Linked DNA regions of Homo sapiens: all the other regions are linked to region 2. Evidence: fine-mapped expression QTL. A gene starts in region 2. Each other region holds a variant in brackets. All regions are shown on one strand. Distances are from middle to middle. Region 1 has its middle 110 kb from the start of PWRN4. Region 2 holds the start of NDN (necdin, MAGE family member). Region 3 holds the start of MIR4509-1 (microRNA 4509-1).

Region 1 (7,812 bases), 180 kb after region 2:
CCAGAGTATCTGACACCCAGTTTTGCCCTTACTGACATCTTACATAGGTATGGTACATTTATTACAGTGAATGAACCAATATTGGTGTATTATTAACTAAAATGCACACTTATTCAAATTTCCCTGGTGTCCATCTAATGTGTGCTTTGTCTCTTCCAGGATCTCAGTCTGAATTCCAAACCCCATTTACTCATCATGTTTCCTTAGGATCCTCTAGACTGTGATGGCTTTTTTAGACTTTCCTTGTTTTTGATAACTTTGACACTTTTTAGAATTACTGGTCAAATATTTTGTAAAACATCCATCAATTGGGATCTATTTTATGATTTTCTCATTATTAGACTGGTGCTATGGATTTTGAGGGAGAAGGTTCATCAAGATAAACTGCCAGTTTTATAACATCCTATCAATGGTATATGTTATCAACATGAATTATCACTGTTGATGTTGACCTTCAACACCTGGTTTGGACAATGATTCTCAGGGTTCTCCACTGTAAAAGTATTTATTTTTCTCCATTTCCATACTATACTCCTTAGAAGGAAGTCACTATGAGAAGCCCACACTTAAGTCATAAGATATGCTCTACCTCCTCAAGGGGAGATTATCTATATAAATTATTTGGAATTCTGACTCCTTCAGGCTGGCTTCTGTAGACTTTGACATGTTCCCATGCTTTTTTCCAGCACTTCCTTACTGGAATATTGTTTTCCTTCAAAAATAAATTATTCAGTTCTTTTCTGATTTGTAGTATCTTATTTATATGAGTTTATATACTCACGGGCTACATTCAGCTTTATACTATTTTTCTATTATCCCTTTTTCACTAGCACTTGTTGACCATGCAAAAGTGACGAATGCATTAGTTAAATCATGAGGCAGGGTCTTCTGTAAGCCCATAAGCCCCTAGAAATACCCTAAAACAAAGTGGCTAATGGAAGATTTTGCTCATAGCTTAAAAATTGCTAATATTGGGAAATTCGCTTGTGCTTCAATAATTTGAGGGAAGTGACTGCCTTCTCTATTAAAGTCTTTCAGTTTAAATGTATACCTCTGTTTTTGTTCTCAACCCACAATTTTCCAGCACCTCTTCCACTACCTCTTCTATCCATTTTCTGCATATTCCAACTGAGATATACCGCAATTAAATCTTCCTCCAGGCTCACTGTTTATTATATTAATATTTCTGTCACTTTGGAGTTGGGGAGCCATCCTGTGTCCATAAAAATTACTGAATTGTAACAGAAACTGCTCTTAGACATTTGAGTGAGAAGTCATTTGAGTGAGAAGACATTTGAGTGAGAAGTCAAGAGAGTTTATTTTGCAGCTTTTTCTTAGCACAGGGATAGTGCCCTGCATTCCCCAGTTGCTAAAGCCCTTAAACTCTTCCTGTGAAAATTTACATTAATTTCTCTTCCTCGAAGAAAATGTGTGAACCCTGAGAACAACTCCATTTTTTAACGTTAAAATCCACTTCATTCATATGTGAGTTGTCAGTGTTAGAAATTTATGCAACTATCAGAAACCCATGTTGTAGCGCCATCTGTCATCCAAAAATGGAAGAATGAGAGCAAACAAATTTCTAAGAACCCAGGCTCCCAGCAGCTGCTGTAGATCGTGGTGGTGATTGTGAAGACAGAGTTCAGAGTCCTGGACAGAAACGATTCCAAGGAACCACTGTTGATGGACTTCAATGAACAGCAAATTATAATGTCTTTTAAATTATACAATTCGTACAATTTACTGTGAATATTCAAACGTACAGAAGATTACAAATTAAACATTAAAATGTATATACACAATATCCTTTTTTCCATTTAACTGCATACCATTATTATTATTATTATTTTTTGAGACGGAGTCTCACTCTGTCGCCCAGGCTGGAGTGCAGTGGCGCAATCTCGGCTTACTGCAAGCTCCGCCTCCCGGGTTCACGCCATTCTCCTGCCTCAGCCTCCCGAGTAGCTGGGACTACAGGTGCCCGCCACCACGCCCCGCTAATTTTTTGTTTTTTAGTAGAGACGGGTTTTCACCGTGTTAGACAGGATGTTCTCGATCTCCTGACCTTGTGATCTGCCTGCCTTGGCCTCCCAAAGTGCTGGGATTACAGGCGTGAGCCACTGGGCCCGCCGACTGCATACCATTTTTAACTGTGTTTATGTGTGCATATTTTCCAGTACGTCTACCAATGTATCCAAATGAACTTATATGTCTACCTACATAGAGATAGCAATTTAGATGTAGATACAGCTATAAATATAGATATTAGATTTTTCATAATGCTTTCAATGGCATTTAACCAGATCTATATCTACTAATGTATATGTTTCTATATATATTTAATAGATTGATCTAGCTATATATATATGTATATATAGCTATATAGGTGATATTCACATTTTATTTTCCAAATTGGTTATCTGTAGTATGTCATAGTGCTCTTTCCATATCATTAGATATCCACTGCAGTATTTTTGTTAGCACTTTGTATTCCAAAATACATATACCCTTCAATTTGCCTATGGCCTATTCATAAAAATTTAGTGTATTTTTATTTTTAAATTTTGCAGAAAATGCTGCAGAAAGCATTCTGATGAACCTTACACTTCAGTAATAATAAAATCAGTGAGTCAAAAACGTATATAGCAATACATACCCTACATTAAAATGTGTATGTAACAGACCAGGCATCGTGGCTCACGCCTGTAATCCCAGCACTTTGGGAGGCGGCAGTGGGTGGATAACCTGAGGTTGGGAGTTCCCGACCAGCCTGGCCTGAACATGATGAAACCCCGTCTCTACTAAAGATACAAAAAATAGCCGGGCATAGTGGTGGGCACCTGTAATCCTGCTACTCAGGAGGCTGAGGCAGGAGAATTGCTTGAACCCCGGTGGCGGAGGTTGCAGTGAGCCGAGATCACGCCACTGCACTCCAGCCTGGGCACCAAGAGTGAGACAATGTCTCAAAAAAAAAAAGTGTATGTAATAAATTACATAGGCAATTCTCAAGCCTAAATATTAGTAATTCATTTTCTCCCCAGTCAGGCTAAAGTGGTTTCTCTAATTAGCTTATTTAATTTTGGAGGATACATAGTGTTTATTGTGTTATTTATGTTTTTCTGGAAAAGTGCCTGCTCATGTCACTTAATACATTATTTTTAAAATTAGGTTGCTTTTATTACTTATTAATTTTAGGTCATGATATTTTATTAGCATTATATTGGGTCCTTCACTGCAAATACATTACAAATATTTAACTATTATTTGTAGTCTTTCTCTAGTATGCTTAAACATTATTAAATAATTTTATGGACAAATGTAAATATTTCCGATTTCACGTGGACAGTTAGGAAATATTTTATTGCTGTTTAATTTTCTTTTAAGATGCATAGTCTTTTATTACATCTAGAATTTATATATATGGTCAAAGGTGGAGAATCTAAGGTTACTTTTTAATATATGGCTGGAAATTCTAAAATCTTTATACATCCACTCTGGATTGTAGATTTTTATTAAGTTTTATGTTATATACAAAATATATTCAGTGAAAAATTGTAACAAGAGTCTCCCTGAATAGTATGACAAGTGCTATTTTTTAAAACCATTTTTGAGTATTTTCTTCTTACTGTGATTTTGTTGGTACTGGTACATTTGTCTAAATACGTATTTTAGGGTGCACGCTACTTCGTAAGCTATTAACCTTTCAGATTCAGCTTTTCAGGACTGACCTGTAAGAATGCAGCTACAGAACGTATAAACTACAGGATTTTCTTTCCATGCAACCTGAAATGCTTTTTTCTGGAAGCAACGGCAAAAAAAAAAGTTATTTTACACTTATTTTATGCTATGCTGAAAAGCAGCAAGGATATAGAAATCGATCGTGGGGTGACAGAGACTTTTGGAAACTGTTTATTCTTGACTTCTTAACAGCCCAGAGAGAAGACTCAATAACCCTCTGGTCTCCGGGTATTCCCGGTTTGTCCCAGGATGGTAACCATGGGTGCGCCTGACAGCGCACTGCCGCAGGAGCGCCGGTCAGACAGGAGGC[T/G]ACCTCGCGGTGTGCTGTGGGAAGGTCATGTGGGCGGGGAGGCCTTCGGCTACGGGGGTCGGGCCAGGAGCTTCCGCTCAGCGCTGGTGAGGCGGAGCCAGGAGGAGCGGCTGCGCTCCTGCGGGCCTCAGGCTCTTGGGCCTTGGCCAGGTCCCTTTAAGATCAGGGCGCTTGCTAGGAATTTCTCGTCTCTGGTTTGCGCGGGGAAATTGAGATGGGAAATATCGCTCAACTCCCCTGACTTCATTCTTTCTAGGGTTTAGGCCCCCAGACGTGGATTTTGCTTGTTTGTTTGTTTCCTACCATATAAAGGGAGTGGCTTTTTTTTTTTTCTGGAAAACGTAAAAGTGTTGTTAATATCTATCGATTTTATATTCATGTGACGATCCACAAATAAAGTTTTTGTATTCCTTTGTATTATTAGCGCTTTATATTTCTACTTTAATTACATTGGTAAGACTTTTTTTTTTGAATGTTTAGATTGATGTGGAGTTTTTTGTTTAATGGGAAGTCAACATCAATTTTGATTTTAGATTTGGATACTGATTCTCTATTTTGTGTTCTTTGGACTTTTTCATCTACCACAAAAGCTCCAGAAGCAAAATTTCTTCATAGTTTTATACATTATCTTTAAAATCCTGTGACTATTACCAGTATATAACCTTATTTAAAAGTTTGTGATTTTTACCCCCAATCTTTTAATTTTCATTCCACTTAAACAACTTTATTAAATTCATTAATAGGAAAACTATTGAACTTCATTTTTGAACCACTTCTATATGAAACTCCTCCGACTTCAGAATTTTGTTTCTAACTTACCCCCACCCTTGTACCTCGTGTGCCATCTCCTAGCTCAGTCATCTGTTGCAGAAATCTCTTCACTGCCACCTCTCACAAAATAAGCAAGTGTAGGTCCTTTTTTCCTATGTGTTGTAAATTATGTGGAATTTACCTCCATGTTCTTCTGTATTCTAAAAGTATTATAAAAGGACATTGACAAAGTTAAGGGTGAAGCAGAGGCAGGAAAGAAATCCCAATAACAAAATTCCTGATATGACATTTAGGAATGATATTCAGCTGTCTTCTTATAGACTTAGAAATTTTCTTTGAGGAATATTCAGAACTATATGCGAGTAATTATTTTGCTGTGTTAACTTTCTAATTTTTGAGGGAAGAAAATATTTTGTTGATAAAAATTTAAATCTAGAAAAAAATTACATAATAATAGACTGTCATCTACTTTCTGAATCCTGAAATTTGCAACCACCTTCAACATTCATACCTGGGTGTCTGCGTTTTCAGATCTATGCTTGTAAATACCTATATACACAAATATGCATATTTCTGTTTTCCTGCGTGCAGTAGACTATACAAGGTTAATTGTGTTAATTTAAACTAGATATATCAAGTCATAGAATTGCCATGCGGTGTTATCAATGCTCCTTTAATTGGTTGGAACGTTATAACTAAAAAAATACATAGTATGCCTTCTTACATCCACTGCACAAGTGAGGACACTAAAATGTGATAGGGTAACTATTGAAAGGTTACAAAGGCATTAAGTGATGAAATCAGAATACCATCCCTCTGGTTCGCTGCACCCTACCATCCTCTTCACCACTGTATAGGAAGAAAAATCATCTCACTGTTCTGTTCTATAGTCTTTTACTGTGGATGTGTTAAATATTCAGAAATTACTGATTATCTCTAATATTTGTATGTTAATCTGTTGAAAGGGTGTGTTATAGTATATTTAAAAAATTATCCATTATTCTTTGATGGATATATACAGTAGTTTGTTTTCTTTTTGTATTTTGCCAAAAGAAACAGTATTGGAGTCCACATCCCTGTACATTCGTCTGTACTAGAGGTCTATTATTTTTGTAGAATATATTCATAGAATTTAAAATTCTGGGTCAAAGGATGTGCATCTCTGAAATCTTATATAGTAGCAAATTGCTACCCAAGTTATATTACTTTTTACTATAATGTACATCATCTTGTAGAGTTATGTTGTATATGACATAATATGAGAAACAGTTTTCATATTGAAAAAGTACATTTCCTCTCCTTTACTAATTAGAATACATAATTCAGTCATTTTGATTTAGCAGCTATTTAAATACTTTTTATTGCTTTTAACTAAACCTTTCACATGCCTTTGGTAAGTTTTTTTGGGAGTGGCCTGATTGGTTGACTCATTACAGATGGACAATAAACCAGAGGAAAGAGCAGAGAGAAAGCAAATGACAAAGACCGTGTTTAAAATAAACATTGAGAGGCATTCTGGGGAACTTTGGTGTGGGTGTTTGCTGTAAGTGCTGCCTATTTGTAATTCAAGCCTAAAGACCATGTTTTAAGAATTCTGGTATAAAAGAAAAATCTTAATCTCATTTCTTTAAGATGCAATGAGGATTTATTTCATATCACATCAAATATTCAAATCATCGTAACCATCTTGGACTGTTCTGAAAGCTCAGGTATGTCCTGAGTCCCAACCTGATTTTCTTTTCTACCACGCTCAACATGTAGACCTTCTTATTCCTCCAGTATTGGAGGATGAGTTGAGGTCAGTGATGGGGATTACCATTACATCTCTTGACAGATGGCATGTGTGGATTACTTGCTCAGTTGTAAAATACTGTATACTTGCTCAAACTAAACACCTACCAGTTAAGCTGTGGGTTTACTCCAGGGGCTTATCATTTTCTTGTAGGGAGAATCACCTTACACTGAGTCAGACCTGTAACAGTAGCCATGGCATGACGTGATTCATGGAAAACACATGGAACAATTCTTGACACGTAAAATGAATTGAATAATTGCTAGCCATTATCTTAATAGTTATTCACATGAATTTACACATCTTGTCTTAAAGATAAAAATAGAAAACAGCACTTAAAGAAGTTTAAAAACACAATACTCTAAGACTGAGAAAATATGTTTCTTAAGGTCACACTGTGTGTGACAAGACTATGATATTAACTGAAACAATGTCATAAAGCCAAACTCAATTTTAAGCATTAAACAGCAGTGATATTATGAGGCATTTGGCATACATTTTTTTCCTATGCCTCCCTATTCTTTGCTTCTTATTGTATCATCTCCCGTCCTGCAACCATGCATTTGTGGGATACCATGCATAAATATTACGTTGATCTCAAACTCAGGACCTGGTCACAGTCCTCATCTAGGACTATCATTAATAGTCATGAATGGAGAGTGGCAGACTACAAAATTAGTTAATTCCCAATATTGTGTTCACTGCAATGCAAATTTCTCAAGAGTAAAATAGGAAGTCTTGGTTTTGCCAAATCAGAGATGCAAAATTTGCTATCAAAGGCCACATTGCTGATTGGGATCCTAAAGTGAGAAAAGGATCCTGTTCAAAGTATATGTTTTGTGTACTTGAGAGAATGAAAGTACTAAGGAAATGAGCACACAAAGAACATGTTGCTTCTTGGTGGTAAACTGCTAGCAAAATAGAATTGTGAGCCATGTTTACCCATGACAAACCTAGCTGGCCCCCAGTGATAACATGTTATTTAACACAGTACAATTATCAAAACCAAGAACTTGACATTGGTACCATACTTTTTTTTTTTTTTTTTTTTTTTTGAGACGGAGTCTCACTGTGTCGCCCAGTCTGGAGTGCAGTGGCGCCATCTCAGCTCATTTTTAATGTTAAAGCATTTTAACATTAAAATGCTAAAATGCTAATTTTAAAAGCATTTTAAAATTAAAATGTTAAAGCATTTTCATTG
Region 2 (7,812 bases):
CATGCCCCAAGCTGCTATCTCTGCAGGATCAGGTGTCATGAAGTAAACTCATTTCACATCTGGAAGCCTCTTTCTCTAGGTCTGGCTGCCTCCTAGGCAGCATTAGGGACGAGTCGCTCTGCCCCATGCCTTACTCCTTTCTCACATTCTCACATTCTCACATTCTGTTTCTCCTGCAAGGGCTAGGTCCTCTATGGCCTGGCTAGGGTGCCTGTGTGAGTGAGCTTGGGACAGCTTTGGAAAGGGTGGTTCTCCCTGCCTCTGACAGCAGAGAGGAAAGTGGACACAACATAAGGAGTTAAACGGGGATGTAAGGAGACTGTTTGCCTGGTGATTTCTGGGCTTGACTGCAAGAAGCGCACAGGGGTTACTGCTCCTGCAAGGCATCAATCCAGCAGTGAGGGAAGTATTAAGGCATTAGAGAAGATGACCAGCACCATGTGTGGCAGGAACAACAGCCCACAGTCCTACTCCAGAAATGAAACATCCTGGATATCCCCACAATTTTAAATGATAACGGGCAGGTTTATTTTGATTCTGGAGAAACTTTTCGATGGGTTGTGGGGAGGTAAGATTTCCAAACAATCCTAACACTTCTGAACAGGTGAGACACTCACATTGGTTTTGTGTAAGAGGTGCCATCAAAGCCAGGTCACCCCTGCCTGGGTGATTGCAGAAATGTCCCCCTTTCTCTGCAGAACCCCCTTGAAAATCTTCACAGGAAGCTTTTAAACCGGGATGGATTTCATCTCAGCATGAACAGGGGCTTCCTAAGCATTTCCAGCACCTGCCCCCACCTGTTAAGTAATGCCAGTAAGTGTTGGCAATTCCAAATTATAATTCCCTCACCCTAATAGGACTCCCAGTTTACTTCTTTGGGGTGTTATGTGACATGTGTCCTCTTCATTATCCATCTTCCACAGAAAAGTTTCTGGCTTTGGCCAAATGGTCTTTCCCACTCTTTTGTAGTTTAAAGGACTTCTAGTCTTATTAAAGCCCCCTTTCTCCCCGCTACCCCTTGCAGGACTAAAAATTCACAGTGAGATTTTTCTTCAGGCATTGCCCCTAATGCCCACCCGCAGCCCACCCCATCCTCTGAGGATTACCTAGTGGCTCACCGCAACTGAAGGGCTGCAAGGCCACAGACATCCTGATGGACAACCCACCTCCCTCTCTCAGGTGTCTTGTGTGTTTGTCAGAGAAGGTGCCTTCACCTCCAACCCTCAGGAGAGATTGTTTCAAATCCTAGCTTCACTGCTAAATAGGAATATCACTTTGTTAGGTTAATTAACCTCTCCAAAAGTAAGTTTCTTAATTTGCACAATCAGAATGATATTGCTTTCTCCAAAATATCATGAGAATTAGAAAAATAAAATTCCTAGCCTTTTTGTATGTGTGGCCCATGAACCCATGTGATTGTAGGCTCCCACATAAAATGTAAAAATAAATTTAAAAATAAATAACCTAAAAGCCACGGGGTATAGGGCAGTCGTAGGCAGGTGGAGACAAATGTGGGCTCTGGATTCATTCTGAGTTCAAGTCCTAGCTCCTTCTCTTATTAACCTTTATGAGCTATGGAAAGTTCATTACCTACATTATTCCTGTGTTTCCTCCATGGTGCAGAGGCAGTAGGTGCCTGCCTGACAGGCCTGTTGCAAGGATTAAAGGAGAAAAATACATGTTAGGGCTTAGCACAATGTCTCACTCTTTTATATTATAAATATGTTATATGTATATTAATAGATGTCACAAGACATCTATTAATTTTGATAAAATGTAGAAACTTAAGGGAAGGAAATTATTTTTGTTTTTTATTCCCATATGATGTGATTACAGACAATCTTACTGTTTTGTTTTGTATACTTTTCTATATTTGTGAATGTTTTTGAAATAAACATGAGTTACATTTAAAGACAATAGAACTATAAACTTCACAAATTTAGGAGTAATCATGAGTAGCGATTTTTCCCACCCTATTAGGGGAAATAGTTGTATCTGTATACACTGTAAAATAGAGAATTGTCTCATTCCCAACCATACTGCTTTGTTAAAATGATAAAGTACACTTTTCCAAAAATGATTGTATCACAAGAATCTTTAATGTTTACTTTAAAGTTGACTCACGGTGGGGTTGTATATGTGTTTAGTAAAGTGTGCCAAGTGCTCACACTGAGACCAGTCCAGTTCAAATTAGTGTACTCCACGAGGGTGTTTTCTGTGCCCAGCAAGGTCATGAAGGGCCTTGACTTTTCTTGGTTAGGCCGGCTTTGCTGGTGACTTCTTCCAAACTCTGCAGGAGCAGTCTACCCCAACACACATCATCAGTCCCATATAAAAGAATAAGATGGAAACTTTCTCAATGTATTTCATCAGTTTAGCACATCTCTGGTACAAAAATCCAAGAAAGGTAGCACAAAAGCGAAAGCACCAACCAAGCTTACATATAAACAAACATGCATACATCCTAAATACTACACAATAGTACCCAAATGAATACAACATTGCATTAAAGGTATAAAAGCACTGTACTGAAAACTTAAAAGTTACACGTGAATACTGCACTGTAAATCCTGAATACTATAATGACCCACCCCCACCCTTCCACAGCCCTGGTGAGGGTCAGAAACCATTCATCTGCCTCCAGACTTTGCTAGTCCTCAGAGACACTGCTGCGAGGGTAGTGGGCAGTGGGATTAGCCTCCCGCAGAGCTCTGGCCTCCTCCAGAGCTTCTCTGTATCGGGAGGGCCAGGCCTGGGGGTCTTTCTTAAAGACCCTGGCCAGGAACTCCATGATTTGCATCTTGGTGATTTCGCGGCTGGCCCGGGAGCCCCAAAAGAACTCGTATTCGGGCGGCTCCACGTATGGGACGCGCTGGTACTTCAGGTAATTCATTTGGACGAACTCCTCAGTGATGAGCTTCCGCACGTCCCCGAAGGTGGAGTGCTTCTTCCAGGGCCGCAGCCCCAGGATGCGCAGCACGTTCCAGACGGCGCTCTCTCTGGCGCCGCGGCCCTTCACGTAGATGAGGCTCAGGATCATGAGCAGGAGGCCTGTCATGGGCATGCGGTTGCTCAGCGCCACCCTGTCCAGCTCCTCGGGCTCCAGCGCTTTGACCAGCGCAAACTCCATGGTGTGCAGGCTGGTTAGCCTCAGGTGCAGCCCGAACACCCGGGCGAGGATGAGGCTGGTGCGCCGGAGGATGCTCCTGCACCACTTCTTGTAGCTGCCGATGACATCTTTCACCATGTCTGGAAACCAGATGATCATCTTCTTCTGGTCCTTGACCAGCACGTACCACATGAGCTCGTGCGCCTTCTGCACCAGCTGCGCCGGGGCTGGCGGTGCCGGGCCCGGCTGGGCCGCGCTCGGGGCCTGGTGGGCGCGGCCCTCCTCCGCAGCCTGCTGCAGGGCCTTCGGGTCGCCCTCGTCGTTCGGGGCCTGGGGAGGCGGCGCGGCCTGCGGAGCGGCCGTCGGGCCTAGAGGAGGGCTCTGCGGCTCTGCCAGGGTCGCGGACGGAGGAACCCCCTCCGAAACCCCAGGGCTGCTGTGCACCTCGGAGTTGGGGGCCTCGGCTGCAAAGTTAGGGTCGCTCAGATCCTTACTTTGTTCTGACATGTCTGCGCCGTCTGGCAAGGGCAGGGCCTCTGCGTCCAGGAGCTCTTCGAGCCTGCGCTCCCTCCGCGGATTCCTGGAGAGGAAGTGCGCGTTGCTGCGCGCGGCGCCTTCCGCAGCGACGGGCAGGGCGGGGCGGCGGCGGGACGCGGCACTGCGCCTGCGCGACCGCGGCCTTGGCCAGCGGCTGGGGGCGGGCGGGGCAGCGCGGGGCCCCGACGGGGAGGGTCCATGGCGAGGCTTCACCTGCTGGGAGAGCGATCCCGGGGTTTCCTGTTTGGGCTGAGAAGATCTAGGGCAGGAGAGAAGTGAGATGGATGCGTACTGGAGAAGGGGCCAGTTTAAGGGAAAGATACCTTAAGTTTTTGGGATGTTGGGGTCAAGTTTCTTGGGAAACGCTTACCTGGGTATATCCAGAATTAAGTTAAATATGAGAGTCCCAGAGAAAGGTCTGGGCGGCTTTGTAAACATGAGCTTTATGCGAACCAGTGAGAGGAACAGTCGGGCTTGTCCAAGAAAATGTGTAAACTGTAAAGTGGATGTCTGAGGTTGGAATCCTGAGAAATTCCAATAAAAAATGATCGACTCCCTACCAAATCAGATAGGCTATAAGAAAAGGGGAAATGCAGTGTGTCGTTAACGTAATTTCCTATCAACCCATGTGAACTATGAACTTTTTAAGTAGGCAGTGGACTTAGAGCATCATTAATGCTTTAACGGGCATAAATTTGGGTTTTACACTTCCTTTGGGTAACTTTGATTCCATTTTATTTTTTTCCATACTTAGTCCATAGCAGAAGGATTGCTATATCTTTTAGCACAAACTTGTATGATAATGTCTTTTCCCTCTGCCCAGCACCCTCATTCTTCAATTCACCTTCTCTCAGGACCCTCTCTGAAGCTACTGAGTCCTCCACGTTGGAAGCCACACCCAAGTCTTTCCTGAGATTTAAAAAAAAAATAGGTCCCATGGGTAATATCTGGTAGTGTCTCTGAGATGACCAAAGGGTAGCAGGGGAAACATAGGTAACCCTGTTTTCCAGGTATGGAAAACAGATTCCCAGTGGGCAAAGACAAAACTGTCACTCCTACAGGCTCTCCATGAAAAAAAGGGTCATTGCCTGAGCATCTGAAACCAGGGACCTTAATGCTGCTTCAGCATCCTTGGTCTGGGCTGATGTGGTCCTTCAGCTCTTCCCGGGTTTCTTCTCATCAGCAGCTTCTTAAATATGCTGTCTTGAATCTAGTTATTGCCACTCGAAGCCAAAAGCATATTTAAAAATTGTCTTGACATGTCTAGAGTCCTCACTGTGAGTATGTATCTTTTCCCACTTTATTTTTCCTCAAGCAGGTTGATGTTGAAAGGTTTTCTGTGCTTTCTCTCTTTGGGTTTGCACGCACATAACACTTTTGGCAGAGCCATTACCACACCAGTCCCTCCAACAGGACTCTTAAGCTTCCCACTTCACCAGGGTAATTCCTAGATATCAGTCTTAGTTGGAATTATTTCAACACTTTTCTCCTCCTCCTCACCCTCCTCCACCTCCTCCTTCTCCTCTCCATCTACTTCTCCTTTTTCTCCTTCTTCTATTTATAGATATCTACCATTTTCTTGGGAACATCTTACAGAAATATGCTAATTATATTCATTGTTTTTAAGAATGTCTCTTGAACAGACTTATTACCCCCATGCTTCATAAATATAATCCTCATTTATTGCATTTAAATCTCCATCAATATTATTCTTTATTTTGTTTGGGTATGTATTATTTTCTAACTATTTAAATAAAATATTTAGGCCAGGTGCGGTGGCTCACGCCTGTAATCCCAGCACTTTGGGAAGGTGAGGCGGGCAGATCACCTGAGGTCAGGAGGTCGAGACCAGCCTGGCCAACGTGGCAAAACCCCGTCTCTACTAAAAATACAAAAATTAGCCGGGTGTGGTGGTGGGCACCCTTAATCCCAACTGCTTGGCAGGCTGAGGCAGGAGACTCGCTTGAACCTGGGAGGTGGAGTTTGCAGTCAGCTGAGAGCATGCCACTGCACTCCAGCCTGGGCAACAGAGCGAGACTGTCTCAAACATTAAATAAATAAAGAAATAAAATATTTAGTTCATTTGATATATTTTTTAATAAGAAAAGTGTTTGAACCTACTATTTAAATCTCAACTTGGCTTTGGCCATAGGCTATGGTTTTTAACATTGTGATCTCATTAAAACTGCATTCTCACATGTCACCCTCCGAGATGTAATGGATTCTTGAAATTAAAGTGCAGGCTTGGGGCATGACAACAATAAAAGGTGGCTCTGCTGAAGTGAGTATCAGCGCTCTGGCCAGAGAGCTGCTTGGACTTCAGTTGCTGCCTGGGCAGGACTGGATAACTTCTACCTGGACTTCATTCTAGTGAAGTTGCCAGCATCAAGCAGACTGTGCAGAAGGCCTCTCCTGCAGCACACAACACACTACACTTCTGACAGAAGGGTTGTCCAATGCTGTACCAGGGCCTGTCGATTAAGACCACCCTGAGAGATTACACTTGGAAGGCTTAAAGCCTTAGGTCTGATGCACAAGTCTGAAATGAAGCACAGGCTAGACCTGGAGCCCAACTGTACACCTGCTAAAATGATATCATCTTCTTCCTGAAGAATGAAGAGGTTCAATTCCCCCCCAAAATCAAATTACTGGGAGTAGAAGTTTGGGTAGGTGGGGTAGTGGGACAAAATAAAGCCTGGGATAGCCTGTTAGTGGGGAAAGCACACATGCGCAGGTGCAATGGGATAGACGGGTCAGTAGCTTGATGGCTGCCTAATAAGGTGTGTGCCCACGAACCAGAGATTCCGACCTTCAGAGTAATAACAAAAAGGACCAAAGACACTGTGAGAAATGAGACGAAGCTAGTACTTGGAAGGCATCCACAACTACCTTGACCCAAGGCTCAAGATCTGGGATGGAGCTCTAATGCTGTCCTGAGAGTCATGGGGATAATAAATCTTGCTGGGTGTCTCCAGGGGGGCCCCTATTTGAGTTGGGCAATAAGTCCTCTCAGGGCCAGCAGCTTAGTAGAAAAGTGTGAAGACTACAAAAATATATCTCAACTACTCATTAAATCAAAATTCTGTAAATAGAAGTTCTGTGAATAGACACAGAAAATATACGGAGAAGCTGTAACTTAAAATATTCTGGAGCAGACAGTTTTGCTGGTGGGTTACTTCGAACTCTGTAATACGGAACAGATTACACAGCTGTGGAATAGGCTGTTCTTGGCAGACCCAGGAACAGGAGGAGAGGCCAGTCCCAGCCTTGGTTTCCATAGTGAACGGAGGAAGGGGGGTCACCCCAGAGCCTCTAGTGGGAAGTGCGCATGCTCGCAGTGCAGGGGCCCAGAGGCCCTGGATGAAATGTGAATCCTCTGGCTCTTCCCTGTCCACATAGGCAGCAACCTCCACCTTGGAGCCCCTAAATGGGCCCCAAATGCCTTTCAGGCCAAGGATCTTAAACGGAATTCACTTTAATGTGTTCAGCAAATATTGAGCAATATCCGTCATGTGCCTGAAATATTTGCATTTCAGAAAAGTCTCAGTCTGAGGGAAAAACCCATGGCAGCTGGGCCCCTTTTTTTGTTAGAAAACATTAAGAAGTTAGGACAGGCAGTGCTGCTTTCCAAAGTTGGGAGGGTGTAGGGAGGGACTGGACCCTGGCCCCTCATCCCCAGCCTCCCTAGGGGGCCACTGCTCATGCTCATCCATTCAAGGTCCATCGCATGCACTGAAATGGGAGAATTTTCTGTTCTGCACAGCCCCAAGGAGCAGCTCTCTCAGATAGTTAAGGAGTCTAGGGTGTCTTCTGAAAAGTCACCTGCATACAGAGTAAGATTAGAGTTTGGGGCAGGTGGACAAGCAGAGGCAGGGAGTCTCATTAGGGGTCCCTTCCCAGGACTCCATGTGAAAATGGGTGATGGCTTGCATTTCATCTTCATTCGCCAACTGTTTACTAACATTACATTTCAGGCCTTGTGCCTGGGGATACAATGAGAAGTGACATGGTCTCTGTAATCTGTACTGAGGGAAAGTGGTGGAGAAAAAGAGCGTTAAAAGAGAAAACAAATGCCTGATCAAATCATATGTTATGATGCATATTGTGAAGCAATATTATCACCAAGAGTGGGACAGAGGGAGCCGAGGTTCAATAGAAATGCCAGG
Region 3 (7,812 bases), 490 kb before region 2:
AAATGTACAATATAAGGTAAATAGCTTTATTGTTGTGTTGCATTATATTAATACATATTTTCTAGTATTAAATCTTTGTATGCCAAATCACTGGGGTGGGTGATTTCTTAGTAAGTGTAGAATTCAGTTCCTTTTTCTTTCAGTTAAGAATATTTTAACTATGTTTATAAGGGATACTGTTTAGTAATTTTATTCTTTTTGTATTCACTTCATCAAGAGTTAGTAATAGTTATATTTGCTTTGTAAAATGAACTGAAAGGAAGCCACTTTTTATAACTTTATCCATATTTCCTAGTCTGGGGTCCATTTTACAAGATGTTTTAAACAGATGCTTATTAAAAACACTGGTTATAGGGACTTTAATAAAAATTTTTAAAATAATGTTTTACATTTCTTGCAAACATTGATGCCTGCAACCTATTTACTATTTTTAAAATTAAATTAAGATTCATTTAAGCAGTACATGTTTATTTTAGTGAAACACGTATTTAATTTTCTAAGATAGTATTTTTTGTCTTTAAAACAATTTCTGCATGTTTTGTTTTTTTTTTCACTTTAAATTTTATGTTTTCTCAGTTTTTGTTTTATCACATTTGCTGTATTTTTCTGTATCATGGGTTATTTGTTAAAGAATGAACTTGTGTATGTTTATAAATTGTTACTGTTTTTGTTTATAATTTATTGCCTTCTAACTTAATATGTAATTAGCATTCCTTTTAATTTTGCTTGTATGCTTTGCTGTACCATTTTGAAATTCTTGAGTTAAATGCTTAACTATTTTTTATCAAGTTTAAATATTAAATTAAATATGTCCCATCAGTTTAGTCATTTTAATATTCTCACTCATCAGACATTTTTTGGGAACACCATATGCCTTTTCATGCAGTCAGTTTCAAGAAAATGAAAATTACTTTTTATATGTTTATACTCAAAGCTTGGCTAGAGATAAGTCTCCCCTTCCTTAAGTTGGGGAGAGAGTGATTTCTTCCAGGCTATAGTCAAAAGAGATACAATTATAGTAATTTTTTGTGTTTGTTTGGGTTGTTTCTGTTTGTTTGTTTGTTTGTTTGTTTGAGACGGAGGTTGGATCTTGTTGCCCAGGCTGGAGTGTAGTGGCATAATCTCAGCTCACTGCAACCTCCGCCTCCTGGGTTCAAGCAATTCTAAACATATTTTAGCACAAAACTGTTTAAGATTTCAATTTATATCTTTTTATTATCTTCCATATACTCTTTTGATACATTACCCATTATGTTGATTATTAACGTACACTCAAGTCAAGATCTTTTATTATGTGAGGTCATCAGTCAATGATAACAGATATTGATGAATTAGTCTCCTCATCAGAAATTGAGCAACATTTTCATTCAAGACGACACATGGGCCTTTAAAGCATATTCAATAATACTGAGTCTCAGTCTTCTCCTGCTATTTTCTGAATGTGCATTTAGACCTTTATACATCTATCTATCTACTGACCCATTTATTAAATTTTCAGCATTTACTTTGTACTCCAAGGACCAGAACCATGTTTGTCTTGTTCACTGCTGTACTCCTATTGCAAGGACCTAGAACATAGTAGGAGCTCATTAAACTCTGAGGATTCAAAATAAGTGAATAGAGGTTGTAGCAGGAAGAAGTCTAAGATAGCCCCTATGACCTTCATTTCCTCATGTTACCCTGTTGATACCTCACACGGCAAAGGAGTCTTGCACATGTCACTAAGGCTAATAATCCGTCAGCCTTAAGACGGGGGGAGTACCTGGGTAAACCTAACCTAATCACACCAAAACCTAACAATCAGGGAGTTTTCTACAACTGAGAGTAGAATGGGAAGTCAGAGAGTTTCAGAGTCCAAGAAGCATTTATAGCACCCTTATTGACTTTGAAGATGCTTTGCTTCTTCTTTTGAGTTCAGTTTGAGATTATCTTTCTAATAATTGATTAGATTTTATTCTTGTAAAAAAAGAGATAATTTAAAGGAATCTATTTTTAAATACTCTGAGGAGGGTGATACTAGGGGTGCTGGTTGTCCTGTTTTAACTTTGTCTTAATTTCTAATGTAATTAAATTTTGAGTAGGTAATGTGACCTGTGTGGTTTTTATTTTAAAAAATATATTGAGGTTTTATATAATCTATTTTTAAAATATTCAATGGAAACTTGAAAACATACTGTTTCACATATTCTTGTATATATATATTAAAAATCTTTTTTTATTTATTTTTTATTTTTATTTTTTTTTTGAGACGGAGTCTCGCTCTGTCGCCCAGGCTGGAGTGCAGTGGCGCCATCTGGGCTCACTGCAAGCTCCGCCTCCTGGGTTCACGCCATTCTCCTGCCTCAGCCTCCCGAGTAGCTGGGACTGCAGGCACCCACCACCACGCCCAGCTAATTTTTTGTATTTTTAGTGGAGACAGAGTTTCACCGTGTTAGCCAGGATGGTCTCGATTTCCTGACCTCGTGATCCGCCCGCCTCAGCCTCCCAAAGTGCTGGGATTACAGGCGTGAGCCACTTAGCCCGGCCTAATTATTTGTTTTTTAAAAGATGGTACATAGGAAGAAGTAAATCAGGAAAAGTGGATAGTGATTGGTGGCAGTAGAAGTGAGTCAGTGTTACAGTTACTATTGCTGCTTAAGAAACTAACCCAAATGGCCTGGGTGCCGTGGCTCACGCCTGTAATCCCAGCAGTTTGGGAGGCTGAGACGGGCGGATCATGAGTTCAGGAGATCGAGACCATCCTGCCTAATACGGTGAAACTCTGTCTCTACTAAAAATACAAAAGTTAGCCTGGCCTGGTGGTGGTGGGCGCCTTAAGTCCCAGCTACTCGGGAGGCTGAGGCAGGAGAATGGCGTGAACCCGGGAGGCGGAGCTTGCTGTGAGCCGAGATCGCGCCACTGCAGTCCAGCCTGGGCGACAGAGGGAGACTCCGTCTCAAAAAAAAAAAAATTAAAAAAAAGAAAAAGAAAAAAGAAACTACCCTAAATTTAATAAGGTAAAACAACGACCACTTCATTATATCTCATGGATCCTATAGGTGAGAAATTCCAGCAGGATTCATCTGAGTGATTCTTCCTCTCTCACATCATTAACTAGGGTGACTCAGTGCTAGTCGGCTGGCAAACAAGTCAGTCTGGAAGGTGCAAGGTGCTTTTTTTCTGTCTTATAAATTGGTGGAGTTGTCTGGAAGGCAAGGCTCAGATGGGAAGGACTCTTAGTTATAGTGCCTGCACAGGGTAAACTTTTTTTTTTTCTTTTTTTTTTGAGACGGAGTCTCACTGTCCCCCAGGCTGGAGTGGTGTGGCCCGATCTCGGCTAACTGCAAGCTCCGCCTCCCGGGTTCACGCCATTCTCCTGCCTCAGCCTCCCGAGTAGCTGGGACTACAGGCGCCCACCACCAGGCCCAGCTATTTTTTTGTATTTTTAGTAGAGACGGGGTTTCACCGTGTTAGCCAGGATGGTCTCGATCTCCTGACCTCGTGATCCACCCGCCTTGGCCTCCCAAAGTGCTGGGATTACAGGCCTGAGCCACCGCGCCCGGCCTGCACAGGGTAAACTTCTTATATGGCTGCTGGCTTTCCGCAGATCAAACAC[T/A]CCAAGGGAACCAGGTGGAAAAGGCCTGGTCTCTTTTTATCTCACCTTAAAGGTCAGGTAGAATTATTTGTCATACTCTATTGATTGTAGCAGTCACAAGCACGTCCAGATTTAGGGAAGGGAGACATAGACCTATTTTTTGATGAGAAGAATATCAACCTGTTTTTGGACTATGTTTAAAACTGCCACACATGACAATTACACACCAGGTAGAAGGCATTTGGCGACAGACTTCTTGAAGGAAATGAGGAGGAATCGTGCTCTGCTGAAAAAAGAGCATTCCAAAGAGAGACCACAGCTTGGGCAAAAGCCCTGAGTCGGAATCATGTGGACTTATTCTTAGAACAGCATCGAGGAAGCCATTATAGCTGGAGTAGAATGAGAAGGGGGAAGAGTATTAGTAGATGGTGGCAGAGAAATAAACATGAGAAGACGGATGATGGAACGAGCACCTTGTACGTCATTTTAAGGACTTTGGCTGTTCCTCAAACTGACATGGGACCATTGAAAGATTTTTTTATTTTTTATTTTTTAAATTTAACTTTTAAGTTCAGTGGTACACGTGCAGGTTTGTTATGTAGGTAAACTTGTGTCATGGGGGTTTGTTGTACGGATTATTCTGTTACCCACATGGTAAACCTGCTACCCACTAGTTGTCTTTCCTGATCCTCTCCCTCCTCCCAGCTTTCACCCTCCTTTTCAAAATAAGACATACATGCAGCCAACAAACATAGAAAAAAAGCTCAGCATCACTGATCATTAAAGAAATGCACATCAGAAGTACAATGAGATACTATCTCACACCATTCAGAATGGTTATTATTAAAAAGCCAAAAAATAACATGCTGGCAATATTGTGGAGAAAAGGCAACATTTCTACACTGTTGGTGGGAGTGTAAATTAGTTCAGCCATTGTGGAAGACAGTGTGGTGATTCCTCAAAGACCTAAAAGAACTACCATTCGACCCGGCAATCCTATTACTGGGTATACACCCAAAGGAATATAAATTGTTCTGTCATAAAGACACATGCATGCATATGTTTATTGCAGCGCTATTCACAGTAGCAAAGGCATGGAATCAACATAAATGCCCATCAATGGTAGACTGGATAAAGAAAATGTGGTATATATACACCATGGCATATTATGCCACCATAAAAGATGAGATCACGCCCTTTGTAGGAACATGGATGGAGCTGGAAGCCATTATCCTTAGCCAACTAATGCAGGAACAGAAAACCAAATGTTCCCACTTAGAAGCGAGAGTCAAAGGGGAGAATACATGAACACGTAGAGGGGAACAACATTGAAAGATATAAGCAAAGAAGTGATATCATCTGAATTGCATTTCTGAGATTTCTCTGGCACTTGTGTAAAAAATAGCTGAAAGGAATCAACGGCAGAAGCTGGGAGACCAGTTAGGGAGCTTTTGCAATAACCATAAGAGGAAATATGTGTGGCTTAGACTAGGAATCGTCAGGTTGGGAGTGCTCATTCAAATGTGGTCAGAATCCGGACATTTTGAGTGAGCCTACAGAAAGCTTTAATACTATCTCAAACTAAAGGATATAGAAGGTTTTCCCTTTCTCTTGCCCTGAAACCTTCTGTATCCTTTATTTTGAGATAGTATTAGAATTCTTACTATCTTACTGACAATTCTCACTATCTTGTTTTATAACTTGGAACATGATTATAATTATAGTATTGTTAAATATTTTATTTTTATTTTATAATTATACTTTAAAAATATTATTTTGGTAAATAATCATAAAATATGAAAAATAAATCTTTCCATTAACTGAATCAATTGTCCCCTTGCAGGATTTTGGCTTCACAACTTCCTAATCCTTGAAATATTAATTTTGATTATTTTTCTAATATGTACCCATATGTCTTTGAGTAAATTTTTATTGGAAGGACAAATCAGTGCTGGATATACAGATGCCATTGCTTCGTACTCAGGTAAAGACAACCTGATATTTATGATCCTCTTGATCATATTTTTATTCTCTTAAAATCTTTATGTCTTCTAATAATGTTAACAGAGAAGAAAAAAAGTCTTATCTAAGCCTGACTTTTTATTTTTAAGGAAGTTTTTTTATTTATTTGTAAAATTCAGGAGTTTGGCTAGTTGTTATTTAAATATGGAGAACTCTTCCTTGTTTCTTCCCCCTCCCTGCCTAGAAGCTGGTTGGTGCTTTTATTATTCGTACTTCAGTGATAGCTTTGATTATTGTTTCAGATCTCCTTGCCCTTGTGTCTTTCCCCAGTACACAAACTATTCTCGAGGTGGAACCTGTGGTCTCTGGCATACCCATCCGCCTTCTTCTCTGTCATTAGTTCATCTCTTCCTTTGCCCTCCAGAGCTCTGATTCAATTGCTGCTTGAACTTTTCAGTGTGTCAGTTTCTTTCTCCACGGATTTCCCTGTGGATGGAAAATCTGCCCTTGCACTTTAGTTTTCATAGAAGCCTCATCTCAGCTATCTCCCATTTTGTGATATGAGCCTCTTTTGTTATTGTAGCCTTCATCTCCTATTTCCTAAATTCCATGTGTTTCTACATACTGTTCATAGACAAATAGTTTAAAGCAATGGTCTATAGTTTCTTGTGGTTTGAAAGTCATATATTTTTAAATACGTTTTCTCCCCCTGAGAATTCAGCATACAGTTTCATTTTTCTTGTACGCAGGATGATTTTTAGGATTTTTTTTCTGTTATATTTTTTCCATTCTGGTTACCTAGAAGGTAGTGATTATTACCCCAAACCAGGGTTTGATACTGTGTTAGTCCACTTTCATACTGCTATGAAGAAATACCTGAGACTGGGTAATTTATAAAGAAAAAAAGGTTTAATGGACTCAGTTCCACGTGGCTGGGGAAGCCTCACAATCATGGCAGAAGGCAAAGGAGGAGCAAAGACATGTCTTACATGGTGGCAGGCAAGAGAGAGAGCATGTGCAGGGGAACTCCCCTTTATAAAACCATCAGATCTTGTGAGACTTATTCGGTTTCACAAGAACAACACAGGGAGAAACCCATCCCCATGATTCAGTTACCTCCCACTGGGTCCCTTTCATGACATATGGGGATTATGGGAGCTACAATTCAAGATGAGATTTGGGTAGGGACATAGCCAAACCATATCATTCTTCCCCTGGCGCCTCCTGAATCTCATGTTCTCACATTTCAAAATCAATCATGCCTTCCCAACAGTCCCCCAAAGTTTTAACTCGTTTCAACATTAACTGAAAAGTCCACAGTCCAAGGTCTCATCTGAGACAAGTCCCTTCCACCTATGAGCCTGTAAAACTAAAAGCAAGTTAGTTACTTCCTACATACAATGGGGGTACAGGCATTGGGTACCCCCAGTGTATCTACACCTGTTCCAGATGGGAGACATTGGTCAAAACAAAGGGGCTACAGGCTCCATGCAAGTCTGAAATCCAATAGGGCAGTCATTAAACGTTAAAGTTCCAAAATGATCTCCTTTGACTCCGTGTCTCACATGCAGGTCACACTGACGCAAGTGGTGGTCTCCCATGGCCTTGGGCAGCTCTGCCTCTGTGGCTTTGCAGGGTACAGCCTCCCTCCTGGCTGCTTTCACTGGCTGGCATTGTCTGTGGCTTTTCCAGGTACACAGTGTAAACTGTTTGTGGATCTACCAATTGGGGGTTTGGAGGGCAGCGGCCCTCTTCTCATAGCTCCACTAGGCATTGCCCCAGTAGGGACTCTGTATGGGAGACAGAGCCCACATTTCAATTCTCTACTACCCTGGAAGAGGTTCTTCATGAGCCCCTGCTCCTGCCCCCGCACCCCACCAGAGCAAACTTCTGCCTGAACATCCAAGTGTTTCCATACATTCTCTGAAATCTAGGTGGAGGGTCCCAAACCTCAATTCTTGACTTCTGTGCGCCTGCAGGCTCAACATCTTGTGGAAGCTGCCAAGGCTTGGGGCTGCAACCTCCGAAGACATGGCCTGAGCTGTAGCCTGGTGTCTCCCACCCCAGCCATGGCTGGAGTGGCTGGAATGCCGGGCACCAAGTCTCAAGGCTGCACACAGCAGGGGGACCTGGACCTGCTCCAGGAAATCATTTTTCCATACTAGGCTTTTGAGCCTGTGATGGAAAGAGCTGCCGTGAAGGTGTTAAGGTCTTTAATGTTCTGGAGACATTTTCCCCATTGTCTTGGTGATTACATTTGGCTCCTTGTTACTTAT

Evidence for each region.
Region 1: its variant is fine-mapped to the expression of NDN in whole blood (TOPMed, PIP above 0.99).
Region 3: its variant is fine-mapped to the expression of NDN in whole blood (INTERVAL, PIP above 0.99).

The regions. Positions count from the first base shown.
Region 1 is chr15:23,865,490-23,873,301 of GRCh38, forward strand. No RefSeq gene overlaps it. Among named protein-coding and RNA genes, the nearest start is that of PWRN4, 110 kb to the right of the region's middle. The variant T/G (reference allele first, on the strand shown) is at 4,049.
Region 2 is chr15:23,683,602-23,691,413 of GRCh38, forward strand. It overlaps NDN (necdin, MAGE family member), which reads right to left and starts at 3,704. Exons shown (of 1, transcript NM_002487.3): 1 at 1,799-3,704. The coding sequence starts at 3,616. The coding sequence ends at 2,651.
Region 3 is chr15:23,192,690-23,200,501 of GRCh38, forward strand. It overlaps MIR4509-1 (microRNA 4509-1), which reads left to right and starts at 5,138; the gene lies at 5,138-5,231. The variant T/A (reference allele first, on the strand shown) is at 3,596.